Linked DNA regions of Homo sapiens: region 2 is linked to region 1. Evidence: fine-mapped expression QTL. A gene starts in region 1. The other region holds a variant in brackets. All regions are shown on one strand. Distances are between the middles of the regions.

Region 1 (4,399 bases):
GTACTGCACACCTTCCTGGAAGTAGAAAAATTTTTGACTAAAGTTTCATTTGGATTCCAGAAGAAATATGCTATAGTTTTGGATATACATTTTTTTTCCTGTCTGTTCACCCAAAGTGAGCCTCACTCATACAAAAACTGGGTGGTTCTGCCCTGGTGGAATATAGACCAAATGCCCATATGGGTGTAATATGTGACCGATACGGCCCATTCCTAGGTAATCAACATTATTTTCTCTTCCACCATTCCTTAACGTGCATCCTAAAGCCTCCACTACTGTCAAGCTAAATTTGATCCCCACCTTCTGCAAATTATGGCTCCCATATTTTTAGTGACTCCAGCACAATATTCCTTAACTGTAACGTTTCCTTTTCTTCAGTACAAAATATACCCCTCCTACCCCTTTCTCCAGATTTCCACTTCATATTGATCTTTTCCTCCACTGAAACCAGTGGCACTTAACTATTGCCTTAAATTGTAAACTATCTCTAAGGAAGCATATTTGTCTTCCCTACTAGTTCTAAACTCCTGGGAGCACAGATTTGATCTTGTACTTCCCTGTATTTCCATATTTCCACAAGGCTTAGGGATATAACCATGTACATTTTAGAAAATAGATAAATATTGCTGGGCGCAGTGGCTCACGCCTGCAATCCCAGCACTTTGGGAGGTCGAGGCTGGTGGATCACCGGAGGTCGGGAGTTCGAGACCAGCCTGACAAATATGGAGAAACCCCATCTCTACTAAAAATACAAAATTAGCCGGGTGTGGTGGCGCAAGCCTGTAATCCACCTACTCAGGAGGCTGAGGCAGGAGAATTGCTTGAACCCAGGAGGCGGAGGTTGTGGTGAGCCGATATTGAACCATTGCACTCCAGCCTGGGCAACAAGAGCGAAACTCCATCTCAAAAAAAAAAAAAAAAAAGAAAATAGATAAATATTTGTAGTTCTATGATTACTAAATATATCTACACTGACCTATATATACCTGTATAAAGATATATACCTGTACTATACTATATACCTATATTGTCCAGTATCATGTTGCCCACTGTCAAGAAACAAAATTTCATCAAATTTAGTTTAAAGTTCTTGGCCAGGCATGGTGGCTCACGCCTGTAATCCCAGCACTTTGGGAGGCCGAGGTGGGCAGATCACCTGAGGTCAGGAGTTTGAGACCAACCTGGCCAACACGGTGAAACCCTGTCTTTACTAAAAATACAAAAATTACCCGGGCATGGTGACACACTCCTGTAATCCCAGCTACTCGGGAGACTGAGACAGAAGAATTGCTTGAACCCGGGAGGCAGACGTCATAGTGAGCCAAGATTGTGCCACTGCACTCCAGGCTGGGCAACAGAGTTAGACTGTCCTCTGTCTCAAAAAAAAAAAAAAATCGAATTGGCTTTTATTAGTGATTCATGAATCAGGCAGCATCTCATCTATAAAACAGAAAAGTGTTCTAATGAGCTGAGCAGAAGGGGTTGGGCTTATAGGCAGAAAAGGGCTGAAGAAAGCAGAAATAAGGAACAAAAAGCAGATTGGTCATTTTGAAGTTACTTTCCTCAAAGAGTTACATCAGAGGGGACTTCTTTATCATGCCAGCTCAGGTATATGGGCCCCTTCTCCTATTTGTTGGAAAACTGACCCCTTTTAAAGCTGAGTTTAATTACGCAGCACCTAGGACAAGTTGCCTCCATTCTGGTTTTGTCTGCTCTCTTGAGGCCTAGTGCCAGAGTTCTGTCCAAAACAACGACCTCCCATAAACTTTATTTAACACCATTGATCTTTTTTCCTACGTCTAAGTCACCCCAACTGTTATAAATTCCTATTACAAAGGGATCCCTGCTATGCTAATTGCAACCTTTGGGGTCTAACCGTGCTGTACACACACACACACACACACACACACACACACACACATGCTCAACAAATTTATGCTATTTGATAAGAGGCAATTTGACGTCAAGAGAAGAACTGTTTGGCCTAGGCTCTATGCCAAGTCTTGGTTGTGCCACTAACCGTGAAACATACCCTCTCTGACCTTCAGTTTTCTGGCTGCAGACCTATTTTCCCAGGGGTGCCAGGGAGGGAGGATAGGCAACTGGTCCATTCGTTTATCCTCCCCACCTTCCCGGCGCAGCCTTCTCAGGGAAACTCCGCCTCAAGGCTGGGGACTGGAGGAAGGGTGGTGGGGCCACGGTGGCCATCTTTGTGCGGGGCGACCCGCCGCCCACGTGCTGCGGCTCCCGGGCCATCTTTGTGCGGGGCCGCGCTTCCGCCAGCGCCGCAGCGGGGAATCTGCAGTAGGTCTGCCGGCGATGGAGTGGTGGGCTAGCTCGCCGCTTCGGCTCTGGCTGCTGTTGTTCCTCCTGCCCTCAGCGCAGGGCCGCCAGAAGGAGTCAGGTGGGCTCCGGGCAGTGCCGAGCCTGCCCCTTGGGCTCGGGGTCTGGCCGGAGTCCCGAGGCGCTCCCCCGCGCGGCCGGCTCCCGGGAAGATGCCGTGGCCGCTGTAGCTCGGAGCTGGGCAGAAGGCACCGGGGCGCCTTGCGGCGGAGAGTGAGGTGCCGGGGTCTCTGCTCCTGCTCTGGACCCTGGAGAGTAACCCATTCCCCGGAATTCAGAATGACAGGGAGGAGAGGGAATTCCCCGTTCACCCGCAGGAGGCGTGGCCCGTGCTTGGCTACTCTGGACCTGCCTGAAACACTGAGGGGTCGGGGATGGGGGCAAATGTCGTGCGCGCGAGCGTGTGTGTATATGCGTTGCCAGAAGAGAAGAGGGGTTTAATGTCTGTAGCTTTTAACTGATCCTCTTTGTGGAGTTCAATTTGATTAGTAGAAAGTGAGAGTCCGCGTCACTATCCATAGCATTCTGAGGGTTGAGCATTAAGCTTGGGAATTTTCCAGTTTCTTGGACACCTGACAGCCGGATAGAGGAACAGACTTGACGTGAGCGTGGGAGTTGCACACACAAAAATTCCTCCCTAGCGTTTCGTTTCCATCAGTGGGATGGGAAGGGGATTTCTGAAAGTTTTGGTCTTCTGTTTCTTCTGTTGGTGTGGTGTCAGCAAATAACATTCAGGAAAATTTTTTTAACTCTCATTTACTTCACTTTTTAAAGGTTCAAAATGGAAAGTATTTATTGACCAAATTAACAGGTCTTTGGAGAATTACGAACCATGTTCAAGTCAAAACTGCAGCTGCTACCATGGGTGAGTTCTTTTCTTTGATGTGTCTTTGAGAGTTTAGTTGCTGTCACAGGAAGTATTCTAACATCCTTGAGAGATTTTGGTTGCAGTGGTCAGAAAGGCAAGGATGTTTTTCTATTTCTGGGGAATAAAAATGCTCTCGCATGGGAAAGGCTCAGGTGGTGTCAACCTAACCACTGACTCACTGCGGGATTCAGTGCATGTGCATCTGTTTTTCCCACTGGGCTGCAAGCTTCCTGAGGTCAGGGTCTGTGTCTTATTTGCTGTTGTCTCCCTGGTGCTAGCTGTCAGTGCGTGCTCGATAAATATTGTTGAGGAAATAAACCCATCTATCGCTGAATCTAGTCCTAAATTTCCTGATGGTTATCTTTAGAAAATGCACATCAGGCTGGGCATGGTGGTTCATGCCTGTAATCCCAGCACTTTGAGAGGCCAAGGCAGGTGGATCACCTGAGGTCAGAATTTCGAGACCAGCCTGGCCAACATGGTGAAACCCTGTCTCTACTAAAAATACAAAAATTAGCTGGGCATGATGGCACGTGCCTGTAATCCCAGCTACTCGGGAGGCTGAGGCAGGAGAATCGCTTGAACCCGGGAAGCAGAGGTTGCATTGAATCCAGATCATGCCACTGCACCCCAGCCTGGGTGACAGAGTGAGACTCCGTCTCAAAAAAGAGAGAGAATGCACATCAGGGCCGGGATGAGGTATGGTAGAAAGATAACTCTGAAAACAGACTTGGGTGTTGGTGCCGGTACTCCCACTGGTTACCCCTGTGCCGAGCCACTTCAACTCCTCTGGGTCTCAGATTCTTCATCAGCTAAATAACAGGGTCTTTTAAGCTCCTTTTTATGTTATTTTTGACTCCTCAAAAAATTCCTTGGATGCTTATGATACTTATTGAAAACTTACTATGCACTCACTTTAAAAGGAATACAAAATAGTGTAATTTTGGTTACTGCTGTCACGCTACCAGAGTAAGGGCTTGTGGGGGAGAGTGTGGACCAGACAGACCAGAACAAGAGAGTCAGTGCTAGACTGTAAGGCGTAAACTTCACCTCCTGTGGGATTGGGAGGAGATGCCAGGAGGACTGAAGTGACTAGAAGGACACAGGTGTGGCATGAGTAGCGAAAGAGAAATACAGAACTGCCAAGGGAGGGGCAATCCAGATGGAAGGAGGAAGAAGAGACATTGA
Region 2 (4,399 bases), 48 kb before region 1:
TAGCCTGGCACTGATGAAATTCCATTCTAAAGAAAGAAAACTCATATTCCTCCCCCCCACAAATTGTTCCCCCAAATGCTCTGGGATTACCTATTTCACCACTCATTTGAGTCTCCGAAAAATGAACTCCCTGAGAATGGCTGGATGGGAATCAGATAGTCTGCTTCCATTCAGGAGAGGGACAGAACAGGAGCTGCTGTGTTTAGGAGGATTTACCTGGTGCCCTAGAAAGGGCTATGCAATCAAATTCTCAAGGGCTCCTTCAAATCAGCTATCAGTCCTCAAAATGGGGGTTGCTGATGTTAAATGATGGATTTGCAGTGAAACGCATGCATGTACTGACGTTTTCTTTCAGCATTAGTGGTTGCTTAAGAAAATAGTAACCTATATTTTCTGCTACACTTGGAATATGAAGAAATCTGAACAAGAACCCCATTAAGACACCTAACCTAATCTAAACCCTAAAATTCAAAATATTGTCCAAGTCAAAAGTCTAGACTCTGAGGACATTAAAAATGTAAATATCATCATCCTTAGCAAATATTTATTGGGAGCTTAGTAATAGTGCACTGGGTACCTTAGCACTCCCAAATCATTCAAGAGTCTAGTGAAAAAGGGGGAGGGATGGCAGCAAATAAAACACCCCCATAAACAACCAGGAGCAAGGTTGAGAACCATTAAGTTGCCAAACAAAAGCAGAAGGGGAAAAAGTGTGGCAACAAGCATCTTTTAATAGGATAGTTGACGGTATTCAAGTGACCTACTGACTCCAAATAATCAAATTGAACACAATTGCAAATCCAATAGAACATCCCAGTGAGACACTCGGGTATTTGAGAACTTTGCTTGATTTAGAAAACTGGAAAGTGGCAACTAGGCTAGAATAGTGGCAACTAGGTTCGGAGGTTTCGTGTGGTCATAATTGGTTTGGTGAAGTGTGAGATCTCTGCAAATGAGCCAGGTAAGATCAGTATTCCATAGTGCTTGAAAAGGGGATTTTAGAGACTTCTGTCATCACAAAGCAGATTAACTCCTAGTTAATGATGAAGCAGTAGGCCCAAGATAAACTGTTCAATTCAAGATAAATTGTTCTTGTCAGTGTTTGGCATATGATAATCACATTTGGCTAAAATTGGATGGGACAGTCATTTGTCTACACAGGCCTTCCATTCCTGCATGAAGAGATACTGGGGAGCATACAATTATTTTGTCCAGTATTAGAGTGGGAGAAGTTCTCAGTAAGTCCAGTCCCACCAGGATTTATTTGGGCCACATTCTACCACGGCCAGTCCAATCTGATGACCACATGAATTGGGGTTAAGTGTTGCTAAGACTATGATTTTAGACATGTCTGGCAGGAAGGTCAGCTCAAAATGTGGCATGACAAAGAATATGTGCTCTACTACCAAAACCTTTCCTAGCAAAACAAGGCCAGAAGAGGGAGCAAGCATCTTTCCAAGCATGGAGAGGAGGGGGCAATGGTGGAAGGGTGATTGCCTGAAATCAGTGCCAGTACAGATAGCATAAAATTGGGGGCCACCACAGATTGGCTGGCTACTGTGTAGATCATTTAGTAATCTTGAGGTACATTAATAATGCAGAGATTACTTTTCTGTGAGGGTAAGGGGGACGTAGCTAAATATAAGAAGCTTACAAGGTCCATAGCCATGTATTTTACTGGATAAATCACAATGCTTTGCAATAACTTAATGTCATAGTACTTTCTGGCTTATAATTCTGCAAAGTAAAGCACTTTTTCAAAGGAGTCTATTGGAAAGCCACATGATTTCAGCTGTGTTTTAAGCTCTACAAATACGTTTCCAAAGACATAATCAAGATGTAATTCTATTCATTACAAATATAAATATTAAAACTATCCATAGAGACATTTAAGTAATTAAAACAGATTTTTATGCTTTAAAAATAAATACTCTAATAAATGATATAAAATATAATGCTTATGATGGAACT[A/G]TGAGCTAGAGGAGGACATGGGGTCACCAAAATCAATAATCAGAAAAGTAGATTATATGCACCAGGTTCATTGTTTTAGTTTGTTCTGTTTGATGTCATTTTTTGTTACTTCAATGTTTGATCTCACAGAAAAAGTCCGTGATGATTTGCTTCAGTATATTTTTCTTGTTTTTGTTATTTTACGTACTAATAATTGCCAGATGTCTGCAACTTCACCCTTTTACTGTTGCAGACACATAGTCATGTCACTCAGGAAACCCCGCGTAAGTCCAGGCTATCATAATGAAAAATGAGAAGAATAAAAGCTCATTGCTTCTCAAAACTCCACAGCTTATGGAGGCACATGGGTCCACCTGCACAGATGTGAACTCAACTTTTCTATTACTTGAATCAATCAAAGGGGACTCTTCTTTTATTTGAGTAATTATGTTAATGATGCTCTAGGGGGAAAGGCAAACATTTGTTGTCCTGGCATATATCCTGTTATATATATGACCACAAAGGTGGGGAGGGGGAGGTGAACAATCCTACAACCTAGGTTCACAACCTAGTGATATTTGCAGTGAAACATTTGTAGTGATATTTCCCCTTTCATTGCCAAGGGGAAGAAAACACTACCATTTTGGCAACAACTTTCTATTTAGAACCTTACACTACTCAGGCCTGCTCCTGCTATCCTTCACTACTGCCCTAAATGCCTTTTTCTCCTATATACTCCCCGATCCGCACACTCTTTGGTTTTTCTCCTGAACTTCCCCCAACCCCAGTCCAACACACAGTTCCCCTCACTTCCAGTCTTTCCCATGTTCTCTGGAGTCACTTTCTCCTTATAAACTCCCCTGCAGTCCCAGTCTCTTCACTGAATGTTGTTGCCACTTCCTGGACTTCAAGAAAACTCGTGTGAGAACACTTCCTTCCCTCCACAAAAGGCTGAACATGTGCCCATGCGCCCATATTATGCAGACTTGTACGAACGGTCAGAGGATGTTCTCCCAGGTCCTCACTTCTACTTCTGCACCATTGTTTCTTCCCATCCCATACAAAAATCCCTCATTACCAAAATGTATGGATCCAACTATTTTAACTTTTATCATTTGTGGCCATGGTTATAGTTAATGTCCCAGATTCCCCAGTCTTGGGTACCAATCTCCCTGTTTCCTTCTACCTCATGTCCCACCATCATCCTGGATGACTTCAGTGTTCTAGAGGAAAGCCCACCCAATACCCTTGCCATAATTGCTTATAGAGGAAAGCCCACCCAATACCCTTGCCATAATTGCTTACAGCTTTTTCCCTCTACTCAGTTTTGAACATTTGCTTCTAGGGTTACACATCAGGCTATTTCACAATAGAGAATTTTGTGATCCTAAATTCTCATTTTCCTTTTTCAGAACTTTCTCTAGCCTTACTACTTTATTCCTTGTATTTGTGCAAGATTACCATGCCTGCCCCCACAACCTCCTCTGATAGACAGCACTCCCACCACACTTCATAATTCCTTCCCTAGCCTTTCCAGACTTAAGGTGCATCATCCCCACTGTTCTCACCAGGACCATTAACTCCCTTAACCACTAGTCCTTTAGCCACACCTGCTTGACAAACCTCCAACCTGGAATCTGGACTCTTATCACACATCTCTGCCCTTTAACTGTGTCTATGGGTTAGATCAGAGAAAATAATAAAACCACAATATAAAAGCTTTTAGATATTTGTGGTCCACCACCCCAAGAGCAGCCTCATTTCCAAAATCTTCAATGGCTATTCCACAACCCACAATGGCTATTCCACTATTCTTGACTCTCTCCTAGACAACTCTTTCTTCCCCACAAATAATTGTTATTGCTTCATAAGTTTATAATATCAGACATCTTTATTCAAGCTCCCACTGCTATTTCCCCTTACCTGTATATGTGTGTACCTAACCTCCCTTCTAGTTCAGAGGAAGTGTTACCCCTCTTTCCAAGAGCTCCCAGGCTTCTGTGTTCCCAGTCTCCTGTAATCCACTATTCTTCCCTATGTATTGAGCCTTGCCCTCTTTGATCTTTAATCCCTCAGCATATAAACATGCCAAAGCCTATTCTATCTTAAACAAAAGTCTTCCTCAATTCTGTCCACTTTTATCACCTTGTGTCTAGGTTCTTGGAAGAGTCATCAGTGTCATCAATGCTCAATTTCTACTTCTTCATTACAATTCACTATTCTGGACCAATGGCAGCCTGACCTCGGCCCGCATAGCTCCGCTAAAATTTCTCTTGCTAACGTCACCAATAGTCTAATATCCAAATCCAACATTCACTTCTCAGTCTCTAGACTTCCCTGTTATATGTGATCCTATTGATCATTCCTCTTTTGAAACTTTCTGCTTTGCCTCCTTCCATGGCCATTCATTTTCTTAGCTTTGTTCACTTAAAAGTTTCCTCTTCCTGGC

The links. PIP is the estimated chance that this variant, and not a neighbour inherited with it, causes the effect.
Region 2: its variant is fine-mapped to the expression of POGLUT1 in whole blood (INTERVAL, PIP above 0.99).

What each region holds. Positions count from the first base shown.
Region 1 is chr3:119,466,703-119,471,101 of GRCh38, forward strand. POGLUT1 (protein O-glucosyltransferase 1) reads left to right here and starts at 2,261. Exons shown (of 11, transcript NM_152305.3): 1 at 2,261-2,404; 2 at 3,118-3,208. The coding sequence starts at 2,320. RefSeq lists enhancers at 1,925-2,425, 2,118-2,287 and a silencer at 2,338-2,537.
Region 2 is chr3:119,418,950-119,423,348 of GRCh38, forward strand. ARHGAP31 (Rho GTPase activating protein 31) reads left to right here. Exons shown (of 12, transcript NM_020754.4): 12 at 1-1,765. Among named protein-coding and RNA genes, the nearest start is that of TMEM39A, 42 kb to the right of the region's middle. The variant A/G (reference allele first, on the strand shown) is at 1,972.